7 linked regions of the Homo sapiens genome follow. The protein of the gene in region 1 purifies or fractionates together with the protein of each later gene. This does not show direct contact. Each region holds a gene or a part of one and is shown on either strand. Other genes may lie near its edges. The genes, in order: OTUB2, NEXN, TRAPPC8, SOX10, TRAPPC11, ZNF211 and RCC2.

Region 1 (4,282 bases):
GCAGAGAGTGAGCCCAGGACTCGGGGCTTAGTGCAGCCAAACTTGAGGGCTCATCAAAGCCTTGGCTGAAAAGACTCTTCACCCATACCCCTCACTCAGACACCATGGAACCTGGCTCAGTCATTCCTCCACAGAGGGAAGCTAACACGCCTTGGAATGAGCACTGGTTGGGGAGTCAGGAGTCCAGGGATCCAGCCCAGCCAGGCCACTTCTTAGCTCAGCAGCACTGGGCTGCTCCTGTCACCTCTCTGGCTTCCTTGGCGGTTAAAAAAAAAAAAAGAGCGAGAAACCCCCCGAAAACAAATGGGGGTCAGGGGCGGAGGCAGGTAACACAGCCCCTGTAGTCACATGCAGAGTGAATTCGAAACCAGCTCTGGAGTCACACTGCCTGGGACTGAATCCCACTTCAGTGCTATGTGACTAAGGCAAGGAACGTAAACTCTCTGTACATGTTTCCTCATCTGTGAAACAGGGATAATAATAACAGGACCTACCCCCTTAAACCAGTTGTGAGGAAATTAAGTAAGATAATTCTGTATATGTGGAGAGTTCAGGATAGCGCCTGATACATAGTAGGTGTTCTGCATAACTGTGTAAATAACTGTAAAAAATTACCTGCTATTGTTACTGCTCCTTGAGCCTCCATTGACCTCACACTCCCTGCCCAGGACATGATACATGCTTGGAAGACTCAGATGTCTGTATGCCCAGAGCCTAGCCCAGTACCTGGGACTTACGTAGTAAGAGTGGGGCGCGGGGGGCGGGGGCGGGGGGCAGCAGCAGGAAGGGGAATTGCTCAATACACGCTCCTGGAAATATTAATTTTTTGAAGTGGATGCATGCAATGCACTGAGCCCCCCTCCCCTACAAACTCTCCCTCCCACACCCAAGCAGCTCCTCCAGGACTCAAGGGCTGGTGAATGAATCTTTGAATGATAAATATTCCTATTTTGATGTCCATTAATAATGAGCTTGTAGGCAAGATGAGTCATCTAGACCTGGTTCACGGATATCCCTACAATTCCAGAGCCACAGAGTCAACGATCCTGGACATTCATTCATTCAACAAACATTAACTGGGTGCGTGGCAACCTACTGATTCATGAGTTGGAAGAGGATAAAATATTATATAGAAGCCATACTTAATGTTATTGGACACGTGTTCCCTAAGCGCCTATCCTCTGATCTTGTGCAAACTATACTTATGTGACCTTGTTTATGAATTAATGACGGCCAGCTAATCCTTCAGAAGACTCCAATTTTAGGTTTGCGCAAAAGCCCTTCAGCCTTTACAAACGAGGACCTGTCTTTCTGGGTTGAGCTAACTCCTCTGCTAGTTAAAAGCTTTCCTGTGTCTTTAAAAGGGGGAGGCATCCTATCAAATGGACCCTAACGCATAGGCTGAAGGCACGTGAAGTCCCACCCACTTTCTATGACGTCCCGCGTCCCGGCTTCTGATTGCCCGCCTGAGACGTCAATCGCAGGGCGTGTGTCTTGCTGGGACACAGTGGAGGTCTAACCTTTGGTTTGCGGAGCGGTCGGGTGTATTCTCCGCCGCCCCCACGCCCTCGAGGTCCCCGCCACCGAACCAGCGGCGGAGCCCGCCCGCGCCTCCCGCGGCATTCCCGCACCGGATCGCTCCTCGCTGGGGCGGGACCTGGCCTGGCGGCTCTGGTCACTATGGTCAGTGATCGTGGGGGATCGCGAAGGGGGAGCGGGCAGGGGGCGCGGTGGGCGGGGTCGCTGCCGGAGCGGGTGCACCCGCGGGACGGGGGTCGGACGCGAGGCTCAGCCCCCAGCTCGCCCCCGCCGCTTTCCGACCCCCTGAAATACGGAGTCCGGACGGATACTGAGGGCCAAGTCGCGCCCCCCTGTACCCCGTGGATGTGCAGCTGAGGAGGTCCAGCTCGGCCCCGAGCCCCCGCCCCCAGCGTGTCCGCCCCAGGTGGCCCGGGGCGCCGCCTCGACGGCGCTGGGTGGGCGCCCTCGACGGAAGCAGGGACAGGGAGGCTGCAGCACTACGGGTCGCCTCCTCTTTGTTAAGTAGCCCCCCAGTCAGCAGTCCACGGCCCCACCCACCCGACGGCTCGGCCGTCAAAGACCTCCTGGCCCCTGCCCCAACCCCAAGGGAGGATCTAGGGGTTGCACGGGGCACCAGGTCGTCTGCTCCGTGGGCGACTAGACCGTCTCCATCTTTGGAGTCAGGACCCACCTAGAGAGGATGCCTCAAGTTGTGAGGCGCATGAGTTAGGGGTCGGGGAAAAGAAAATACTCAGGAATCCCTGATGGAGAGCCTTGTCTGCGCAGAACGAGGCCCAGAGACCCTCTGAGCCAGGCTAACCCTGGGCTTGGGCAGGTGGGGAAACTGAGGCCAGACAGGGCAGGGCTGGTACTGATTGTGGTGGACCTGGGGCTTGAACCCAGGCTCTGGACTCTCAGTTCAGTGCTCTTTGTGTTACATCGGCTCACCTTCCAGGTTGCCGTGGGGTCAGGCATCCTGCAGGGGACTGGGTGGCATGGCTGCCTAAGACCCTTCAACCCTGAGCAGGGGGAGCCTGTGGAGTGAGGGCTGGGTGGCTTGAGTCGGGGCCACACAGCCCCAGGTTCAAGTCTCACTTCCACCTGTTGGAAAGCGAAGAGGCTTTGGTTGGTCCGCTCTCCCCCTCAGCACCGTTTTGCACATCTGTGTCATGGGAACCATGTGATATGATTAGCTGGAGCTTTTCCTGTGACAACAGAGTCCTGGAAATGGGTGTGCACAGATGCCTGGTTCTTCAAGCTTAGCCTCCTCTCTCCTATGACTGGGCAGGAAAATGGGTCACCACGGCAGCATGCTGCCGGGCTGGGGCATGGGTCAAAGCCTGGTCATGGCCTGGCACGATCTGGGTGTGGCATAGGCAGCCAGGGCACTCGAGCTGGGACTGTCCTTGCCAAGCCAGCCTGCTGCCTGGGGCATAGCTGGGGGCCTCTGGAGCATCTGGAAGCACCAGCTTCCTGCTTCCACTTGGTGCCCAAGGGTTTACCTGGTTGAGCTGCTCCTGGAAGGCAGCCCAGGTGTTTCTGCATCACCCACCAGGGAGTGGTGGAGCTGGGGTAATGATGGGCTTAGCCACCCGGGAGCTGGAGGCTGGCATGCCCTCTGGCCACCACTCGGCAGCTGAGAGCACAGCAGAGGCGGTAGCTGCTCTTTGTGCCATGCAGTGAGGCCGCTCACTCTGCTCCCTATCTGCCCTGACTCAGGAGACTGGAAGTTAGATGGCAGATGGGGTCCAAAGCCCTCACCCCTCACCGGGGGCTTGGGTGCCTTGGCGAAGGATGAAGTGGTTAACCCACTAAAATATGACGTCTGTCTGGTAATCACAGGGGTGGAGGCCATGCAGGGTCTTTTCCCTTCCCTGCACATGGCATTTATTGAGCACCTACTGCATGCGGGGACCATACTGGGCCCTGTGCTGCATGGTGGGTTTTTATGTTGAACTTGCATTGTGTGGATGGTGGTGACAGAAGGAATATCCTTGGAAAATACAGCATCTTCTTTACTTTCCTGTTTCTACATCACTGGGCTAAGCTTGAGGAAGGGCGCCCCGTGGAAGACACAAAGACACTTGGGAAGGTAGGGGTGAGACAAGGACCAGACCTCTGGCAGGGACTGCAAATAGCTAGGGTTCTCGTGCACTCAAGGTGCATTTCATGTTTGACGAATGAATGAGTCAGACATAAGCAGGAAAACCGCAGGGTCCTATTGTGCTTTGTTCTGTTATTTGTCAAACAGGCCCCCAGTGGGCACCTTTGTCAGGCCTGTGCTGGGCACTGTGACACTGATGAGAAAGACAAGGTGCCTGCCCGCTGTAGGAGCTCACTGCCTGCTGGCCAAGACAGCTGGACACAAGCAGTGTCTGAGCTACAGGTCATGCCTAAGAGGCCTAAGGACATTGGGAACACAGTGAGAGGTCAATATGCTCTGAGGGAGTGGGGGTGTTGGAAGGTTCTGCAGAGGAGGTCTTTTGAGCTGAGTTGAAGGATGTATATGAGTGTTCAAGAAGGATTTGGGAAGGGCACATTCCTTTTGGCGGGTGCGGGGGGACAGTGGGCTATCAGGCCTTGAAGCATGGTCAAGAATAGGGGATTTTGGCAAAGGTGAACAGCCTCTGAAGATGCAAGGAGATTGAGGGAGGCAGGGAAATTGAGTCTAGAAAATTTGGTGGGGTCAGGATGTTCTGTGCAGGGCCTCACTTGCTGTGCTGTGGGGTTTGGGTTTTATTCCACCAATGAGGGGGAAACC
Region 2 (3,500 bases), on another chromosome or scaffold:
TTGTTTGTTTTCTAAGAAACAAATCAAGGCAGTTTAAGTTAGCAGCATTTTCCTTTATGACTAAAAGGTGGGTTTTCATAACGTTTTCTTAGGATGATGAAATAGAAAGTGAAGCAAAAAAAGAATCACTTTCTCCCGGAAAATTGAAACTAACTTTTGAAGAACTGGAGCGACAAAGACAAGAAAACCGAAAGAAGCAAGCTGAAGAGGAAGCAAGAAAACGTTTAGAAGAAGAGAAGCGTGCTTTTGAAGAAGCAAGGCGGCAAATGGTAAATCTACATATTTAAACCTTACAATTAATATTAATGAAGTTAGCCGACTTAAGATAAGGTTTACTACTACAAATTCAAAGAGATTTTACATATAGAAGGGCTGATTTTCTAATTGTATTCATATTTCATATATAAAATACATCTAGGCTAGGCACGGTGGCTCATGCTGTAATCCCAGCACTTTGGGAGGCCAAGGTGGGTAGATCACCTGAGGTCAGGAGTTTGAAACCAGCCTGGCCAACACTGTGAAATCCCTGTAATCCCAGCTGCTTGGGAGGCTAAGGCACGAGAATCACTTGAACTTAGGCGATGGAGGTTGCAGTGAGCTGAGATCACGCCATTGCACTCCAGCCTGGGTAACAGAATGAGACTGTCTCAAAAAAAAAAATCCATACTGTTTTCCAGTTTTCACTCTGGGGCATTTTACCCAATATGCTTTAAATTTTTATTTTTATACATTGTTATTAATGTATAAATATGCAAAATAATTACTCAATGAACCTGGTTTCCTTCATCTGTTAGTTCAATCTGCAAAGTACTTAATGACATGGGTGCGGGACTGATTATAAGTGTAAACTTGTCCTCAGCAGTCCAGTTTTTCAACTGTTTGAACATATCAAAATAACAGTTTACGGTGGAATATGCAGTTTGTCCTATTAAGTGTATGTGTGTGCATATTTGTGTGCATGCCTCTGTGTGTGTGTGTCTGTGTGTGTGTGTGTGTGTGTGTGTGTGTGTAGTGTGGTTAAGAGCATGGATTGTGGGGCCAGATTGTCTAGATTCAGATATCAGCCATTTACTAACTGTGTAACCATGGACAACTGTTTTAATCTCTCGCTGTGTTAATTAATTAAATCTCTCTTAGTTTCTTCATTTTTAAAATGGTAAAAATGAAAGCGCCTACTTCTTTTTTTTTTTAACTTCCACAATGACTTGGATTTTTTTTCAATGCCTATTTCTTAAATGGTTAAACAAGTTAATATCTAGGAAGCACTTAAAATGGTGTTTGTTACATATACTAAGTTCTTTGAAAATGTTAATTATTACTATGGTATTAATAGATTTATCAACAGAAAGTAAAACTGAAATAAGAAAACACTGATTCCAAACCTCGTTTTAAGATTTAAAAATGCGCCAGGCATGGTGGCCATGCCTGTAATCTCAGCACTTTGGAAGGCTGAGGCAGGCAGATCCCTTGAGCCCAGGAGTTTGAGACCAGCCTGAGCAACATGTGGAAACCATGTCTCTACAAAAACAAATACAAAAATTAGCCAGGTGTGGTGGCACAGACCTGTAGTCCAAGCTCCCCGGGTGCTGAGGCGAGAGGATTGCTTGAGCCCGGGAAATCAAGGCTACGGCGAACTATGAATGAGCCACTGGACTCCAGCCTGGGTGACAGAGTGAGACCCTGTCTCAAAAAAAAAAAAAAAGGATCTAAAAATGGAATATTTGTAATTTTAAAGTTACAGAACTTTCTTGATCAGCTTTCTTGAATGATGTTCTAAGAATTATATATATAAAAATTTAATTTTCTAGACATTTATTTGAAAATGTTATTACTCGGGTATAGCTGCATAATATCTGCACATTTTAGATATTTCTGGTGGTCAACTTAATAAAGAAATAGTATTGTTAAATAAATAATACATTTCAATTGATATTATAGTAAATTTAATAATAAACCTTTAATGATAAAATCATAAAGCTGGAATTTTACATAAAATAGTTCTAGATAATAATCTTTTATCTGATTAGTATAAGGTACCATAGTTCACAGTAAAAAAAAAAATACAAAAATTACAAAATGAGAACATTATTTTACTACCAAAGAGATTCTGTGTAGATATACTTGAACCCCAATTATAGTACACACATACGCATTTTATATTTGTTCTGGGAAAGTTAATACTCAACAGTAACCCCTCACTGCAGCCTCAACCTACTGGGCTCAAGGGATCCTCCCACCTCAGCTTCTCGAGTAGCTGGGACTACAGGCACACACCACCACACTGGCTATAATGTGTTTTTTGGTTTTTAGTAGAGACGAAGTCTTGCTATGTTGCCCAGGCTGGTCTTGAACTCCTGGGTTCAAGTGATCCTCCTGCCTCCTAAAGTTCTGGAATTACAGGCGTGAGCCGCCACAACACCTGGCTAAAAATGTTTTAATATTCAATTTTATCTATAGAAATTTGGCTTATTTGAGAAGTTTTATTTAACCTGAGTACATCTTTATATGGAATTTCTCCAAATTTGAATATTTTATCATAGAAGACATTAAAAAGGAAGGGGATTTAGGTCAAGTATATTAAGGGCATTGAAACTCCTGTGTGATAGTGGCTAATTCTGTGCCTTTTGATTAATAATTCATTCCTTTTTCTGATGAACCTCAATTCTTAGTAATGAATTGTTTATTTGGTTAGGTAAATGAAGATGAGGAAAACCAAGACACAGCAAAAATTTTTAAAGGGTACCGCCCTGGTAAACTCAAACTCAGTTTTGAAGAAATGGAAAGGCAAAGAAGAGAAGATGAAAAAAGGAAAGCAGAAGAAGAAGCCAGAAGGAGAATAGAGGAAGAAAAGAAGGCGTTTGCTGAAGCAAGGAGAAATATGGTAAGACAGAAGCTAACTGGAGAATGCTATTAGAATTCACCTTTGAGAATATGTTAATAGAATCATTAGACTTTAGAGAATACCCTATTATTTCTGGAAACTGTGCCAAGAGTAGAAATGGCAAATATGTTTTAAAGTCTCCCATGGAATAACACCAGTTGGTTGAAGGTATTTGCTTCAATTTAGTGTTCAGAAGATTCTGCTTTAAATTGCCATGCTTGGCACAAAGGATGGAATATTATCTCCCTTCTCTGGGAAGGCATGTTTTCCAGAACTAAGTATCCAAGGAAGAAGAAGAAGTAGGGAGTTTCCTCCCTCAACTTTTCTTTCTTCCTCTCCATTCTTTCGCCACCTCCTTCCCATACTCCCTTTCTCCCTCCTTCATTCCTTTATTTCCTTCCTTTCCTTCTTTCAGTTTTCATCCCACCTACTATATATTAAATGACCTGAGTCATTTAATCAGAATTATTTCTCTCTTCAAAATGCTCACTCATCACTCCTGGAAATTGATACCTAACTTAACTGTCACAAGGTTATGACTGTACTTCCTATACCAGTTTTATGTTTGTACAATGTACAGTTATCTGACAAACAATTTTGAAGCAATTTGAGACTAGAG
Region 3 (3,216 bases), on another chromosome or scaffold:
TTTTTTTTTCTTGATTATAAAATAGTACTTAACAACAAAAAAAAATCCAGATCCACAGTCCCACATCAGATACTCCTAGAGCCAAATGCTTTTGGGAATTCAGAAATTTTTGAATTTTTGGAAAAATACTATAAAGCGTATACTTAATATTTTTGTATAACACCCCAAACAGGATCTGGGACAGTTCTCTGAAATCCAAACACACACCTATATATGTGATTTTGTGTATCATAAATTTATTAATACTTTATTGGGTACTGGGTTTTCCATTTTTCAATATTATAAACAGTTTCAATATTAAAAGCATTCATGTACAGACACTTATATATGGCTAACTAAGGAGTTAAAAGTTTAGGTTTGAAATCAAGTTCCAACATATACTAACTCTTAGGGCATTAAATGAAATAATCCACTTTTAGCATTGTGCCTAGAGAATAGAAACTATTAAATAATAAATGTTAGCTGTTATAGTAATGATGTTGCTATTATTAATAAACAGTTGGCTTCATAAAATAATTTTTAGAAATAGAATTGTTAGATGAAAGGGATGTTTGTTTTCTTCTTGAGATGGAGTCTTGCTCTCTCATGGGCTGGAGTGCAGTGGTGCAATCTCAGCTCACTGCAACCTCCGCCTCCCAGGTTCAAGTGACTCTCCTGCCTCAGCCTCCTGAGTAGCTGGGATTACAGGCGTGCACCACCATACCTGGCTAATTTTGTATTTTTAGTAGAGACGGGGCTTCATTATGTTGGTAGGCTGGTCTTGAACTCCTGATCTCAGGTGATCCACCTGCCTCAGCCTCCCAAAGTGCTGGGATTACAGGCGTGAGCCACCGCGCCCAGCTGAAAGGGATATGTTAATGTGACTTTGGGAAAAAAATTAAAAAGAAAAAAATCCTGCAACTTACATTTTCCTCCTCCCTTAGTCCAGAAGCACTGGAAATCCATGGATCATTCACATGGCTTGGACAAACACAGTATAAACTTCAACTTAAAAGCCAGGAGATTCACAGTCTGCAGCTGAAAGCATGCTTTGTTCATACAGGTGTTTATAACCTTGGAACTCCTAGGGTATTTGCCAAGTTATCGGACCAAGTTACAGTGTTTGAAACAAGTCAGCAGAATTCCATGCCTGCCCTGATCATCATCAGTAATGTGTGACAACTTGGAAATTTGTACTGAAATCCACAATAATCAGTTTTTGCTGGATGGGTTTTACAGCAGTATTTGATATACCTAACTTGTTATGGAGGTTGATTGATATCTGATCCCTGCAAAATACTTTGACTTGTCATTTTGTTGATGATGCAAAGCACGTTGGACTGAGAATACTTAACATTCTTTTTCTGTATTTCTTTAAACCCTGAGAATAATTTACATGCTCATAATACAGGATATCAGCATATTTGTGCACCTTATTAAGCCCCATCTTAAGAAAACACAAAGTCTAAGTCTGCTGTTACAACTTGTCAATGGTATACGAATATTAGGAGATGATTCTGAGAAAGGAAAGGCCTTGTTGGCAGTACTCCTGTTAAGCCATTAGTCTCTAAATTCCAGCTTTACTGTGAAGTTCTATAGAGTGTTAAATACAAATTTTCCTGTCTTGCTTCACACAGTTCCTTAAAATCAGTTTTGAACTTTGGTCATAGAGTCTTCATATTTCAGTATTTGGTGGTCCCTATGACTTATACATAACTTTGTAAAAAGAAAAAAAAATTTTTTCTGATGCTTTGAATATAGTTTTGAAAGGAGTTTTGACTTTTTTCCCCTCATTCATCTCAGTATAGAGTGCGCTATTTCACAATACGATTTTTGTCATTAAAATTACCATATTCTTTATTATATAACGTTAACTATTGAGTTGATCTGTTTAAAATATAAATCTCAAGTTAATTAAAAATAAGCTTTTCAAAAATGTATTATATTTATAACAAATATACTGTAAATAGAATAAAGACATGCTATTCACTGTATAGCGTATTAGTATCTGTTGATTAGAAAGTCTGGTTTCAAAATATTTTTTTATTCAGAGAATGGGCATTTGGACATAAGAAATTTCAATTCAGCCCTGCTGCAGATAGAGAAATGGGAGCAAGGTTGTTTCAATGAATATCTCTTGTCATTGGAGAAGGAGGGAAGACAGGGTGTAGGAGTGGGTGGCAGGGAGTACAAGAGCCAGGGTCAGTCAAGTCTGGAGCAGATGGGGTCCTTGTGCCATTGACAGCTACCATGGTTTGTTCCAGTCTCAATCTCGGCACTAATCGGAGCAGACTGCACCAAAGTGGGGAGAGATCAAAAGACCCCGTTTTCAGACTGAAGATTCCAAACCTGTACTTGGAACAACTCTTCTTGAGAGATGGGTGGCTAGTCTGTGTGCCTCTCTGCAACTGCTGCTTATGCTTCTGGATCTTAAGTGGGTCTCTGGCTTTTCAGCTCCTTCCACTCTGTGTCTTAGCAGGTGTGGGACAAGTTGGAGAGGAAGGTCACATTCTAAGGACACTCATTTCCTTCTTGAGAGTTTAGGGCCATGGGCTTATAAAAAGTCTGAGGAGGAAAGACAAGAATGAGGAGGCATAATCACAGTGGTATCTCATATTTAAACCACTCAGCTGAATATTAAATTGAACCGATTGTTAAACAGACACTAATAAAAAAATTAAACTATATAAACCTACAACTGAATATATTAAAAATAAAGGTAATAAAGCACTCAAAATTACTTCCTGAATATTACTCAGGATTATTTATGTCTATTTTATCTGTATCCTGGAAATACTACACAATGGTGTGTTTCTGCTCATCTCTTGCCAACCCTACATTCAGTGACTTGCTGGTAGCTTGAAATCAATGATAGTAGAATGTTTACCTCAGGAAAACCAGCAAATGCTACACACCAGGGCTTGATTTATTTATTTTTGTTGTCTACGCTAGACCTAAGAAAGTGATGGAGAAAATGTTAGTGATGCATATTAAAAGTGTTGCATATTTGTAGCTGTAACGAGTAGCACAAATAGTTTAGGAAAATATTCCTGCAGTATCTGAAAAGTTTTACCCAGTTCAACAAAGAAGTTGCCCGTATCACTGATGAACTAGTGAAGATCCAACATGTGTTTTCTCACTTCCTCTTCCTCGTTAATGTAAACAGAAATATCAACCAGCATTCATACTAAAATTATTCTCGCTTATCAATTGCAACATAGGTTGGTTTTCTATACA
Region 4 (3,500 bases), on another chromosome or scaffold:
TTGGCCAGGGTTGTCTTGAACTCCTGACCTCAGGTGATCCACCTGCCTCGGCCTCCCAAAGTGCTGGGATTACCATCATGAGCCACTGCGCCCCACAGCATTTGTTTAAATACTGGTGTCTTAGATTGATCTCTAGTTGTTTATGAAATTCTCAAATCTTAGGGATGGGTCCTGGGGAGGCCTGCCTCATTCTGAAAAAACCTTTCCTGTGGAAAGTTCTTCCTCTCATCAGCTTCTCTGCTGTCCAGGTGGTCTGGCCCAGCCTTTGCGCTCTGCCAGCCCCGCTTCCACACCCATGCCTACTGTCTTCCTTGCTGAGCCTCGCTCGCCCAGGCTCCTGAGTGCTCTGTTTCACCTTTGCTGGTTGCCTGGGCCTGCTCCCTGTCCTGGCCTCATGTTGTGTCCTTTCCAACCCTTCCCTCCTCCTGAGCCCACCCTGCTTCCCAGCCCACTGGCAAGCCCTTAGCCCCGTCATACGCTGGCCTGTGTTGCCCTGTTGTTCTTTGAGCTGCCTTCCTCCATGGGAGGGCACTTAGAAAACTGGTCCTTGTTCCTTTGTCTGTTCACTTTCCTATTCACATATTAATTTAGCAAACTCTTAGGGAGCATTACAAAATGCCAGGTACTGTGCCAGGTGCTGGGGATACTAATGTAAATAAAATGGATCCCTGTTCCCAAAAGCTCATAGTCTAGTCATAGATCCATAGATCCACATGCACCCAGAGTTGGAAGTGCTGTGGTGACAATATGCAAGGACTTGGGAGACCAGAGGAGGAGTCCACCCGCTGCCTCAGGGATTTGGGGAAGGTTTGATCAGGGAAGGATGTCTGAGTGGGGTGGGGCCTTGAAGGGTGAGAAAAAGTCTGTGTCCAGTTTCATTCTGAGGTGGTTGCTCTGTATGTGGTCCAGGGTCTCCTGATGTGTGTGTGTGTGTCCCTGAATCTTTGAAGGTGAAGAGTATGTACACGTGTGTGGGAGGGATGACTGCCTGGCATCCCAATGGAGACAGAACATGTCCATGGTCTTAAGAGACTAGGAGCTCCCCAAGGACAGGCCTGTGCCTCCTTCATCAGACCAGAGGCAGCGCCAAGTCCTGCATTGGCCAAGGGCTCTGTACTTCAAGAGACCTGCCTAGGCTTTTGAATCCTGGTTCTGTGTCTGGACAAATCCCCAGTCTTCTCTTAACTAGTTTCCTTATCAGTAAAATAGAGATTGTACCAAGCAGCCCAGGCATTGCCTCTTTCTGGAAGCCTTCCTTGACAAGAGTCTGGTGGGCAGTGGGGTGTTCTTGGAGACCTGACTGGATGGGATAGACGGCCATGCCACCTCTGGATCTCACACAGACTTCTTGTGCACTTGTTTCTCTCTCTATATATATACTATATATATAGTAAGAGATAGGAGGCTGGGCGTGCTGGGTCATGCCTGTAATCCCAGCACTTTGGGAGGCTGAGGTCAGGAATTCGAGACCAGCCTGGCCAACACGGTGAAAAACCATCTCTACTAAAAATACAATAATTAGCTGGGTGTGGTGGCGTGCATCTGTAATCCCAGCTACTTAGGAGGCTGAGGCACAAGAATCGCTTAAACCCAGGAGGCAGACGTTGCAGTGAACCAAGATGGCACCGCTGCACTGCAGCCTGGGCAACAGAGCAAGACTCCATCTCAAACAAAAACAAAAACAAAAAAAAGACAGAGTCTTACTACATTGCCCATGCTGGTCTCAAACTCATGGGCTCAGGTGATCCTCCCACCTCAGCCTCCTGTGTAGCTGGGACTGCGGGCGCATTCCACCATGCCTAGCTTTGTTTCTTCCTGTACTTAATTCACTCGTTTTCATCCCTGCTCCTCTCTCTAGACTATGGGCCCCTGAGGCCAGGGACTGTAGGCTTCTCTGGTTAGTACCCCTGGTGTCCACTCCAGTGTTTGACACAAAGTAGGACTCAGAGCGTGTCCTCTGAAGGCAGAGCTCTGCTCACTGAGCACTTCCCATGTGGCAGACCTGTGTGTGTCACTTTCTGTACATTAGGAACACAGGCAAGGCAGCTGTGGTGCCAAGCAGATGCCCGGGAGCCAAACTGGGGAAGTTCCTGTTTGTTTCTCATCAGTAAAATGAGAGTAACTTGCCACAGCTGAGATCTGAGCCCAGGCAGTTTGGGTACCTCATCACATTGTTTGCAAGGATTGAGTTAGTATACATAAGGCAACTAGCACCTAGCACAGTGCCTGGAACAGAGTAGCTGCTCAATTAAGGTTAGCTGTTATTATCATTAATGAAAATTAAACAAGATAGCTTATGTCTGGCCCATCCATGGCCAGACACGGTATCACATGCCATGTCTCCTCTGTCAGAATGGCTGGTGGGATTTGGGAGGCCGAGGCGGGCAGATTGCCTGAGCTCAGGAGTTTGAGACTGGGCCTGGGCAATATAGTGAAACCCTGTCTCTGCTAAAATACACAAAATGAGCCAGACGTGGCGGTGTGCACCTGTAGTCCCAGCTACTTGGGAGGCTGAGACAGGAGAATTGCTTGAACCCGGGAGGAAAAGGTTGCAGTGCACCGAGATCATGCCACTGCAGTCTAGCCTGGGCGACAGAGTGAGACTCTGTCTCCAGAAAAAAAAAAAAAAGAATGGCTGGTGGGAAAGAGGCAGTGATTTCCTCTCCTCCATTTGCTCTTCCATTTCTCAAAACCATCCTGTCTTCTCCCCCTTTACTTGTAACTGCCCCAGCCACCTCTCACTCCATGACCTCCACAGAGTCTTTTTTTTTTTCTTTCTCTTTGAGACAGAGTCTCGCTCTGTCGCCCAGGCTGGAGTGCAGTGGCGCGATCCCGGCTCACTGCAAGCTCCGCCTCCTGGGTTCACGCCATCCTCCTGCCTCAGCCTCCTGAGTAGCTGGGACTACAGGTGCTCGCCACCACGCCCAGCTAATTTTTTTTATTTTTAGTAGAGATGGGATTTCACCATGTTAGCCAGGATGGTCTCGATCTCCTGACCTCGTGATCTGCCCTCCTCGGCCTCCCAAAGTGCTGGGATTACAGGTGTGAGCCACCACACCCGGCGGCCTCCACAGTCTTTAACTGGCCCTCTTTGCCCAGTAGGATCAGCCCTGGCCAGAGCCATCTCACCCAGCCACTTCCCCTGGCACCGGAACCCCCATGGAGCTCCCTCTGGGCCCCTGCAGCTCTGCTGGGGCAACTGCACAGCCTGGCACGCTCTCCCTAGAGTCCAGGGTCTCATTGCCATCCAGCCATCTCCTGTCTCCACTGACTGGCCTTGCCCCACCCTCAGCTCTGTCATCAGCACTCACCTGAGGGGTGCTCGGGGTTCCCATCTGACATGGGGGAGCCCTCTCCTGGGTGCCGGTGGTCCAAGTGGGCGCTCTTGTAGTGGGCCTGGATGGCGGCGGTCCCACCTTGCTCGGCCTCCCCACCGGGGCACTCCGCCTCGCCCTGGGCGGCCTTCCCGTTCTTCCGCCGCCTGGGCTGGTACTTGTAGT
Region 5 (2,797 bases), on another chromosome or scaffold:
CTTAGTTACACTGCCACATTTCAAGTGCTCAATCGCTAAATGTGACTAGCGACTGCCATACCAGACAGTGACGTCCTAGGCAAGGATGAATCCATACTTTTCTTCCTTTGAATAAAAGGCTTTGGTTTTCTAATTGTATGATGCACTCATTTTTTGCTCTTGCTTGTAAAAGCTACATTTGGCAGGGATTTCACTAGCTTGAGCCATGATTTTGTTTCTAAAATTGAGCAGCTCCCATCAGTACTAAAAAAACAGTCAAGAATCAAGGATCGGGAACCTATTTCACTCACTCCATTCCTGCCGTGAATGTCTGGAAGCTATACTTAGCTATGTTTCTGTATGTATGTACACACACACTGCTATATACATCTGAACAACCACAGCAGCAGCAAACTGAAAGCAGGAGTGCTGTCTTCACTGCCTCGGGAATGCCTCAGAATCTTTCTGCTTAAAGCATAGCAAATCACTTTTGATTGTGAACACTCTTCTGTTTCATTTCCTGATCATCTTTCTCCTGCTTTCCCCACAAAGGTCTGCTATTGTATATCTGTATAATAAAATAAAATTATTTGTAAGAATTGTATTCTTTTAGCTACTAGCTATCCCTCTGGGATGTTGTTAACCTGCCAGAAATTTTACAACTAAAAACAGTTACGATACCTTTTATTCATTCTTAGTCTTGACTTTTCTGACGTGATGTTTTAAATTCTTTCAATCAGTGATCTTAGAGATAGGGCAGTTTTTGTTTTTATCTGCCACTTTTATCCTTGCAGCATGCATTGGAGTTCACTGCAGACACTTTTTCTCAAACAGGAGATTGGGCAACCTTGAGTCCCCAAAAGGAACTTACCTGTCAGCTCAGGCTCTGGACCTGCTTAAAGCTTGAGACACAGGAGGGCCCTGAGCAAGAGAGAGAGAATAAAACTATCAGTTAAGTAGGAATGATAAACAAGGTTCCATTCCACATGTGGGAGATGGCCTGGCAGTAGCTGCTGGAACGCAGGGTTGAGAGAGAAGTACTGACAGAAGAGGATTCTTCGGGTGGAAGTGCAGAGTCAGCTGGTGATGGCTACAGGAGAGGGCAGCTCCCAGCCTGTGCCGTGGCCATCCCCAGGTGCAAGTGAAGAAAGAAAGAGGTGGGGTGAAAGGAGGAGAATCACCATATCACCATTTTTATTTTGATGCTTACACTCATTTATTCTGTTTTTGTAAAACAGTTTCAAGAATTTAAAAATCCTTCCAGTTAATAGAGCTTTTGTTATTATATTATAATTTTGTAAACCCACTTTGTTTTTCCCACTTTAAAGCCACAGGGTCGACTCATGGATGATACCTCTATTGCTGCTGCATGATGTTCAAGACCGGCCCTTGGCTGTTGTTACAGAGATGTTGGGCAGAGCTATGCAGGTGTTTCATTGTGAACTCTAGCTTTGATCATGGTAAAAAGTTAACCTTTTCTATTTTTTAATGGATGTTATACCAACTATTCAGAGGAACTCATACTTCAAAAATATTAGGAAAATCTGTCTTATAGTTTCTCTAATAAATATCTGAAATCTCAGTACGACATGAAAGAATGTCAGACCATTGTTATTGTTGAAAGTCATTTGATGAATGGTAAATTCTATGAAAAGTAAGTGATTTGCATGTATAATATCAGGAAAATTAAGCATCCCAAGTGTGACTGGACAAAGAGAGCAGATGCACCAGTGCCTGTGCCATAAAGTTCCGAATCCCCCATGTGTCTCTTTCAGAGCTGGCCAGACCGGAAATAAATCATTCTCATAAATTCAGTGTGTACTCAGAACACATACACAACAACATAGGGAGTTGTATGACTGATACGGAAAACTTCCAGAAAGTTTTAATCAAAGCAGTTTAATTAAGGTATCAAAAATATCTTTGCTTACTATCAAGAAGTGTCAAATAGGTTCAGCTTGCTGCCAAAATATGGATCATTTATGAAGCAGGTTCATATTTTAGAGGTGTTAATAAAATCCTCATCGGAAAAGATCCAAAGTGCAAGGATTTGATTATAAACATAATTTCCTAGACTGAAAGTTTTTGGAAAAGATGCAGGGTCTGAGTCAGGCCTTCTGGTTATATTGTGCAGTTTCAAAAGAACTATTTAAAACTCTTGAAAACTCATGTAAATAAAAATCATAGGGTGAAAATTGTATTTGTTAAAATACCTTAATAATTTAAAATGACCTGATTTCCTGGAAAATTTTATTATTCAAAAGGTGGAGGCATTGTAAAAAGGAAATAGTGATGTAAATAAACATGTTCTCTTTCAAGTATGCTTGTCTGTCTCTATCTTTTATTTTGAGCTTGTTTGATTTCAGCTTCATGGAACAGCTTTTACTAAGAACACTGTTGCATGAGATGCAATGGCAAGCACAGGATTGAAAATTGGGCTGTGTTCTAGAACTGGCTCTGGTAACATTATGTGAGAGTTGGACAGTGCTATCTTGGGAGGACATGAGCTCCCTGTTGTAACATGGCTTTTCAGGTAGAGGCCATGGAGCATGACTCTAGAGTCCAGCTGTCTAGGATCAAATCCCTCCTCTGCTGCTTTTGTCTGGGTGACGTTGTTCAAGTTCCTTACCCTCTGTGTATCTCAGCGTTCTTGTATATAAGATGTAAATAACACCCATCTTATAGGCTTGTTATGAAGGATGATATAGATTCATACATGAGAAGAGCTTGGAACAGTGCCAGACCCAAAGTTATGTATGAGGGTGCTCAGCCAGTGTCATCTATATTTTTATGGGAAGGCTGAAGAGGGTATTCACTT
Region 6 (3,500 bases), on another chromosome or scaffold:
AAATGTTTTCTCTTATTCTGTGGGTTACGTTTTTAGTGTGTTGATAGGATCCTTTGATGTACAAGTTTCTCATTTTGATGAATTCAGTTTTACTTTTTTACTTTTATTGTCTATGCTTTTTATATCATATCCAAGGAATCATTAACAAGTCCAATGTCATGAAGCTTTTTCCTTGCTTTAAGACTTCTATAGTTTTAGTACTTACATTCAGATCTTTGATCTGTTTTGAATTAATTTTTATATGTGGTGTCAGGTAAGGGACCAACTTCATTCTTTCACATGTAGATATCCAGTTTTCCTAGCATCATGTGTTAAAAATTTGTCTTCTTTCTCCTGGTCAAAAATCATTTGGCCAGATATTTGAGGGTTTATTTCTGGGGTCTCTTCTAGTCCATTGATCTATATGTCTTTCTTTATGGGAGTACCACACTGTTTTAATTTCTATAGCCTTGCAGTAAGTTTTGAAATTACGAACTGTGAGTCTTCCAACTTTCATCCTTTTCAAGATTGTTTTAGCTATTCTGTGTCTCTCGATATTTCAAATGAATTTTAGGATGGATTTTTTTATTTCTGCAAAATAACGTCATTTGGATTTTGATAGGTATCGCACTTTCTATAGATTACTTTGGCTAGTATAGACATCTTAACAATATTGAGCACTCTAGTCCATGAGCAGGCATGTGATCTATTTTATTAATGTTTTATTTAATTCATTTTAGCAAAATTTTGTAGTTTCTAGTGTACAAGGCTTTTACTTGTTTGGTTAAGTTAATCTTTAATGTTTTATTCTTTTTGATATAAGTGGAATTGTTTACTTTTCAAATTGTTCACCATTAGTGTATAGAAACGTAACTGATTTTTGCATGTTGTATTTATATTCTCCTATTTGCTGAATTTCCTTATTAGTTGTAACAGTTTTTCAGTGGAATCTTTATGGTATTCCATGTATATCATCTGTGAGCAGGGATAATTTTACTCCTCCTTTCCCATTTTGGTCCCTTTTCTTTCTTTTTCTTGCCTAATTGCTATGTTGAACAGAAGTGCTAAAAGTAGCATCCTTATCTTGTCCTTAATCTTAGAGGAAAATCTTTCAGTCTTTCATTGTTGAGTATAATTTTAGCTGTAGGTTTTTTTTTTTGCATATGGATTTTATTATGTTTAGGTAATTTCCCTGTATTCCTGGTTTTCTGAGTGTTTTCCCCACGAAAAAGTGTTGCATATTGTCTAATGCTTTCAGTGCATCAGCTGAGATGATCGTTTTAATTTTTTTAGAGATGGGGTCTTGCTATGTTACACAGGCTGGTCTTAAGCTCCTGGCCGCAAGCGATCCTCCTGCCTCAGCCTACCAAGTAGCTGGGATTACAGGTGTAAGCCACCACTTTGATCAGTTTTTGTTTGTTGAACCATCCTTGCATTCCAGGAATAAATTCTATCTGGTCGTAGTGCATAATCCTTTTAATATGCTGTTGAATTCAGTTTGCTAGTGTTTGGTTGATGGTTTTTGCATTAATAATCATCAAGGATATTGGTCTGTAGTTTTATTTTCTTACACAATCTTTGTGTCATTTGGAATCAGGGTAATGCTGGCCATACAGAATGAGTTTAGATGTGTGTATGCTACAGTTTTTTGAGAGAATTTGAAAAGGATAAGTATTAGTTCTTAGTTAAATGGTTGGTAGAATTCATCTGTGAAGCCATCAAGTCAAGGGCTTTTCTTTAAGGTTTGTCTTTTTTTTTTTTTTTTTTCTTGAGACAGAGTATTGCTCTGACACCCAGGCTAGAGTGCAGTGGTGTGATCTTGGCTCACTGCAACCTCCACTTCCTGGATTCAAGCAATTCTCCTGCCTTGGCCTCCCGATTAGCTGGGGTTACAGGCACATGCCACCACACCTGGCTAATTTTTGTATTCTTAGTAGAGATGGGGTTTCACCATGTTGGCCAGGCTGGTCTTGAACTCCTGACCTCAGGTGATCCACCCACCTCAGCTTCCCAAAGTGCTGGAATTACAGGCATGAGCCACTGCACCCGGCCAGGTTTGTCAATTTTGATAACCTTTTCAAAGAAACACCTTTTGGTTTTGTTGATTTTTTTTTTATATTGTTTTTCTCTTCTCTATTTTATTTATCTAGACTTTAGTCTTTATTATTTTTTTCCTGCCAGCTTTGGTTTTAGTTTGTTCCTCTTTTTATAATCCCTTAAGTTGTAAAAATAGATTGTTGAGTTGAGATCTTTCTTCTTTTTAATGTTTATAGCTATAAATTTCCCCTTTAGTACTGCTTTTACTGCATCTCCAATTTATTTCCCTTCTGATTTCTTCATGGCCCCATTGGTTTTTCAATATTGTATTAATTTCTACAGATTTGTAAATTTTTTAGTTTCCTTCTATTAAGAGTTCCCAACCTCATCCCACTGTGGTTGGAGAAGATACTTTGTATGATGTGTGTCTAAATCAAATGAGGCTTAATTTATGGTCTGTCCTGGAGAATGTTTTTGGTACACATGAGGGGAATGTACATTCTGTTGTTGTTGGGTAGAATGCTCTTTATATATTTGTTAGAGCTAGTTGGTTGTTTAGGTCCTCTGTTTTCTCTCTTCTCTCTGATTGTTCTATCCGCTGCTGAGAGTCAGGTATTGATGTCTCTAACTGTTATTGTAGAACTATCCATTTCTCCCTTCAGTTCTGTCCATTTTTGCCTCATGTGTTTTGATGGTCTATTATTAGGTGCATAAGTGTTTATAAGTGTTATATCTTCTTGCTCTACTGAACCTTTTATTAGTATATAATATCCTTTTATATCTCTTGTTACCCTTTTTGATTTAAAATCTCTATTGTATGATATTAATGTAGCCATTCTTACTCTTTTTTGCTTGCTATTTGCATGGAATATCTTTTTGTAGGCTGTCACTTTCACCTCATTTACATCTTTGGATCTAAAGCAAATCTCTTGTAGACATCATAAAGTTGGATCATGGGTTGTTTTTATTTTAACCCATTCTGCCAATCTTTGTCTTTTGGCAGAGTTTAAGCTAAAAGTTGGGAGCATTTAAGGCATTTACGTTTAAGGTAATCACTGATAAGGAAGGGCAGACTTCTATCATTTTGCTCTTTGTTTTCCCCATGTCTTATAGCCTTATAGCTTTTTTGATCCTAATTTCCTGCATTACTGCTTCTTTTGTGTTTGGCTCACTTTTTTTTTTTTTTTTTTTTAGTGAAACTTCCCTTGTCATTTCCTTTATGTACTTTTTTTTTTTTTTTTTTTTTTTTTTTTTTTAATGGTGTCTCACTCTGTTGCCCAGGCTGGAGTGCAGTGGGGCGATCTCGGCTCACTGCAACCTCTGCCTCCCATAATCAAGCGATTATCCTGCCTCAGCCTCCTGAGTAATCCCTCCTGGGATTACAAACGCACACCACCACACCCAGCTAATTTTTGTATTTTTAGTAGAGACAGGGTTTCACCATGTTGGCCATACTGGTCCCAAACTCCTGACCTCAGTTGATC
Region 7 (3,500 bases), on another chromosome or scaffold:
CTCAGTTTGGCAAGAGGCCAGGTGGTCTGCCTTGGGGATGGGGCGTGGGGTGGTGGAGTTCCCCTTGTGACTCTTGGTCAGGATCAGAAAGAGGCCCTGAGAACCTTGGCATGGAGTGGCTTCTTGAGGGCATTGGGAGCCTCCCCAGTGGCCATAGGAGGCCCATCTGGGAGTAGGAGACGCTGCCCTCTGTTTCTCTGCACACCCAGTTTCTGATGTGAAATGGCTTTGCTGTGAAGCGTCTGCACTGCCAGCTTTTGGGCAGTCTCACTTGCCTTCTGCCTGGCAAATGAGCTGTTTTTATTATTTTGATGCCTTTGATTCTAAATCTAGTTCAAAACATTCACCATTATCTTCCCTTTTGTGATATTTTTCCTTTCTTCCAGAAACGGGCTCCGTGTTTGCGTTTGGGGAAAACAAGATGGGGCAGCTGGGCCTTGGCAACCAGACAGACGCTGTTCCCAGCCCCGCGCAGGTGACCCCTCCTCAGCTCCGGCTCCATGGCTTTTTGTTTCTCTTTACTTTTGTGTTTGATTTTCTAAGGTGGGGTCTCCGTTTGAGTTAATTTACCCCTTGTAAAAACAGGGTCTGGATGTTTAGTTACATGCTGTAGAGTTTTTTTGTTTGTTTTTTTGTTTTTTGTTTTTTTTTGAGAACGGAGTTTCACTCTTTTTGCCCAGGCTGGAGTGCAATGGCGCAATCTCGGCTCACTGCAACCTCCGCCTCCCGGGTTCAAGTGATTCCCCGGCCTCAGCCTCTGGAGTAGCTGGGATTACAGGCATGTGCCACCACACCTGGCTAATTTTGTATTTTTAGTAGAGACGGGGTTTCTCCATGTTGGTCAGGCTGGTCTGGAACTCCTGACCTCAGGTGATCCACCCACCTCGGCCTCCCAAAGTACTGGGATTACAGGTGTGAGCCACTGCACACAGCCTTGCTATAGTTTTTAAAACAGGCTTAGTTTGTGGTCGGGTTGAAAACCATCCTGAAAACATTTTGTTTCCAAATGGAGAAATCTGTTAGAAATGCCTTGTCGTAAGCCTGTTCTGTTCCAAAGAAAGTGAGTGATGTTATATGGATGTAATTGTACTTCCCCCAAATACTTTGTTTTGACCTTGTATAAAGTCACCAGCCAGATGCTTAGAATACAAATACGAGATAGGCAGTCTTTTTTTTTTGGAGGGGAGACAGAGTCTCGCTCTGTTGCCAGGCTAGAGTGCAGTGGCGCGATCTCAGCTCACTGCAACCTCTGCCTCCCGGATTCAAGCGATTCTCCTGCCTCAGCCTCCCGAGTAGCTGGGACTACAGGCATGCTCCACCACGCCTGGCTAATTTTTGTATTTTTAGTAGAGATGGGGTTTCACCATGTTGGCCAGGATGGTCTCCATCTCTTGACTTCCTGATCTGCCTGCCTCGGCCTCCCAAAGTGCTGGGTGTGAGCCACCGCGCCCAGGAGATAGGCAGTCTTTTTTTTTCTAAGAAACTTGAGTTGGAGGGGTGAGATTTATACCTTAAAAACAAACTACTACTAAAGGCAGAAGAATGCTAAGTGCCTAATTAGTGGTCTAGGTGATGAAGGAAGGGAGGGACTTGGTTTTATTGATCTTAAAGAGACAGTGGCTAGGCTTTGAACTGCTCTGTGCTGGGAGGGTGGGGGTCTGAGGGTGCTTCTTTACATATCTTCTAAGCTTTGTGTTCTAGAAATGCCTTCAGCTTTTGCCTTCAGAATTACTGAGTTTATTAAACTTCCGTTTGTAACCTAGTAATTGTTTCCCACCAACATGCAGAGAGGTAGAGGCTTTTTATCAGTCTTTAAAAAAAATGAAAGTCTCCTTTCTTGTCTTTTCAGATAATGTACAACGGCCAGCCAATTACCAAAATGGCCTGTGGGGCTGAATTCAGTATGATAATGGACTGCAAAGGAAACCTCTATTCCTTTGGGTGCCCTGAATATGGTCAGCTGGGTATGGAAGTACATTTTTTAAAAGCTCTGTAATCTAACTGTATATATTCAGAACTAGAGATCAGTGTGGGGCTGCACACACGTGTTAGAAATGTGGGTAATTGATCTCAGATAATAGCCTTTGTCCGTTAAGTGGATCTCACGTTCAGCAGAACAGCGCGTCCTCATTCACAGGATTATGGAGTATTGCAACACTGCCTCAATGGAAAAGTTGGGACTGGAGTCCTACAAAAGATTTCTTTTTTTCTGATTTGGGAATTCATTTATATAAAGGGATTTCAAAGTTAAAAAAAAATCAGACCACCTTCATTCAATTTCACATTTAAAGATTATGCCTTTATTGAAAATGAGAAAATTACGGAAAATGAACGTTGTTCTGGAAACCCTGGCCTGGGCGATTATTTCGGGTTGCCACGTGAGGAGCCCTGGTGGACCCCCTCCCCGTGCGTCATCCCTAGCCAGAATCTAGTTGTCCAGAAACTTGTTTCTTCGATCTCATTGGTGGAAAAGGAGAATTCAGGCATCAGTTCTCAGTTAGTGGGGGGAGTGTCTTCCGACCTGATGGTCTCCATTCTCCTTCCCATCGGACCCTAAGTGCGGTTCCCTGAAGTGCGCTTCCCGGTTGTGGCTCTGCCTCCACTCCAGCCCCTCTGGGGAGGCCTCCGCGAGGTGTGGCGCGGGCGCCCTCTGCTGGCCGCGCGCGCTCCTGCAGCCGCAGCGCCTGGCAGATGGAAAAGGTAAAAATAGCGCCGAGCCCGCTGGCCTTAGCCTCGGGGAACAGTGACTTTGTGAAACTAAATATACTTCAAGTCAGAAGTGAATAAGAGAGAACAGCCCCTTACGCACATTTCACATTTCGCGTTGGTTGCCGTGGTGGAGCCCGAGACAGTTGGAGAGCGGTTTCCATGGCCACAGCCCTGCTGCGGTGCCCAGCAGCGGTCCGCTTCCTGCCACGTGCGCGCTCCTGCTGCCTTGGCCTCCCCTCTGCACCCCGGCAAGTCGATTTTCCGTCAGGAAGCATGACATGCTGTTGGTGATAAAAACGGCTCACTTTCATGGAGCAGTGACTGTGTGTGCCAGGCACCATGTAAGCACTTTGTACAAATTCGCAGGTGCTCAGTTACACTCAACTTGCAGGTAGTTTGGAAATCGGCTTGATTTGTAGCTACAGAATCGCTTATTCTCAGCGTATTACTTGCTTTAAGGCAGGTGTTTGTTTCGTTGTCCAAATCCAGATAGATCACTTTTAGAATGAACCTAAATCCGACTATGGCCGTGTCTCATCCACACACACTCATGCCTTGTGCCCCCTTTTTTGCAGTGCACTGAACTGGGCTGGGCAACGCCAAGATAAGAAAGACGGAGTCTCCCTCTGTCACCCGGGATGGAGTGCAGTGGTGTGATCTCAGTTCACTGCAACCTCCACCTCCTTGGTTCAAGCAATTCTCCTGCCTCGGTCTCCCAAGTAGTTGGGACTACAGGCGCCCGCTGCCACACCCAGCTAACTTTTTTTTGTATTTTTAGTAGAGACGGGGTT

Evidence for each region.
Region 2: the proteins of OTUB2 (region 1) and NEXN purify together in Homo sapiens (affinity purification with mass spectrometry; one large-scale study listed by BioGRID and IntAct). This does not show direct contact.
Region 3: the proteins of OTUB2 (region 1) and TRAPPC8 purify together in Homo sapiens (affinity purification with mass spectrometry; one large-scale study listed by BioGRID and IntAct). This does not show direct contact.
Region 4: the proteins of OTUB2 (region 1) and SOX10 purify together in Homo sapiens (affinity purification with mass spectrometry, with the first as the bait; one large-scale study listed by BioGRID). This does not show direct contact.
Region 5: the proteins of OTUB2 (region 1) and TRAPPC11 purify together in Homo sapiens (affinity purification with mass spectrometry; one large-scale study listed by BioGRID and IntAct). This does not show direct contact.
Region 6: the proteins of OTUB2 (region 1) and ZNF211 purify together in Homo sapiens (affinity purification with mass spectrometry, with the first as the bait; one large-scale study listed by BioGRID). This does not show direct contact.
Region 7: the proteins of OTUB2 (region 1) and RCC2 purify together in Homo sapiens (affinity purification with mass spectrometry, with the first as the bait; one large-scale study listed by BioGRID). This does not show direct contact.

The regions. Positions count from the first base shown.
Region 1 is NC_000014.9:94,024,858-94,029,139, forward strand, and holds the start of OTUB2 (ubiquitin thioesterase OTUB2), read left to right. Parts: upstream 1-1,482; 5' UTR 1,483-1,680; coding exon 1,681-1,683; intron 1,684-4,282. UniProt on the Homo sapiens protein: Hydrolase that can remove conjugated ubiquitin from proteins in vitro and may therefore play an important regulatory role at the level of protein turnover by preventing degradation.
Region 2 is NC_000001.11:77,926,624-77,930,123, forward strand, and holds part of NEXN (nexilin), read left to right. Parts: intron 1-92; coding exon 93-269; intron 270-2,692; coding exon 2,693-2,881; intron 2,882-3,500. UniProt on the Homo sapiens protein: Involved in regulating cell migration through association with the actin cytoskeleton. Has an essential role in the maintenance of Z line and sarcomere integrity.
Region 3 is NC_000018.10:31,828,697-31,831,912, reverse strand, and holds the end of TRAPPC8 (trafficking protein particle complex subunit 8), read left to right. Parts: intron 1-923; coding exon 924-1,158; 3' UTR 1,159-2,716; downstream 2,717-3,216. UniProt on the Homo sapiens protein: Plays a role in endoplasmic reticulum to Golgi apparatus trafficking at a very early stage. Maintains together with TBC1D14 the cycling pool of ATG9 required for initiation of autophagy. Involved in collagen secretion.
Region 4 is NC_000022.11:37,974,556-37,978,055, forward strand, and holds part of SOX10 (transcription factor SOX-10), read right to left. Parts: coding exon 3,312-3,500; intron 1-3,311. UniProt on the Homo sapiens protein: Transcription factor that plays a central role in developing and mature glia.
Region 5 is NC_000004.12:183,711,293-183,714,089, forward strand, and holds the end of TRAPPC11 (trafficking protein particle complex subunit 11), read left to right. Parts: intron 1-1,307; coding exon 1,308-1,352; 3' UTR 1,353-2,297; downstream 2,298-2,797. UniProt on the Homo sapiens protein: Involved in endoplasmic reticulum to Golgi apparatus trafficking at a very early stage.
Region 6 is NC_000019.10:57,636,168-57,639,667, forward strand, and holds part of ZNF211 (zinc finger protein 211), read left to right. Parts: intron 1-3,500.
Region 7 is NC_000001.11:17,419,178-17,422,677, reverse strand, and holds part of RCC2 (protein RCC2), read left to right. Parts: intron 1-386; coding exon 387-475; intron 476-1,849; coding exon 1,850-1,964; intron 1,965-3,500. UniProt on the Homo sapiens protein: Multifunctional protein that may affect its functions by regulating the activity of small GTPases, such as RAC1 and RALA. Required for normal progress through the cell cycle, both during interphase and during mitosis.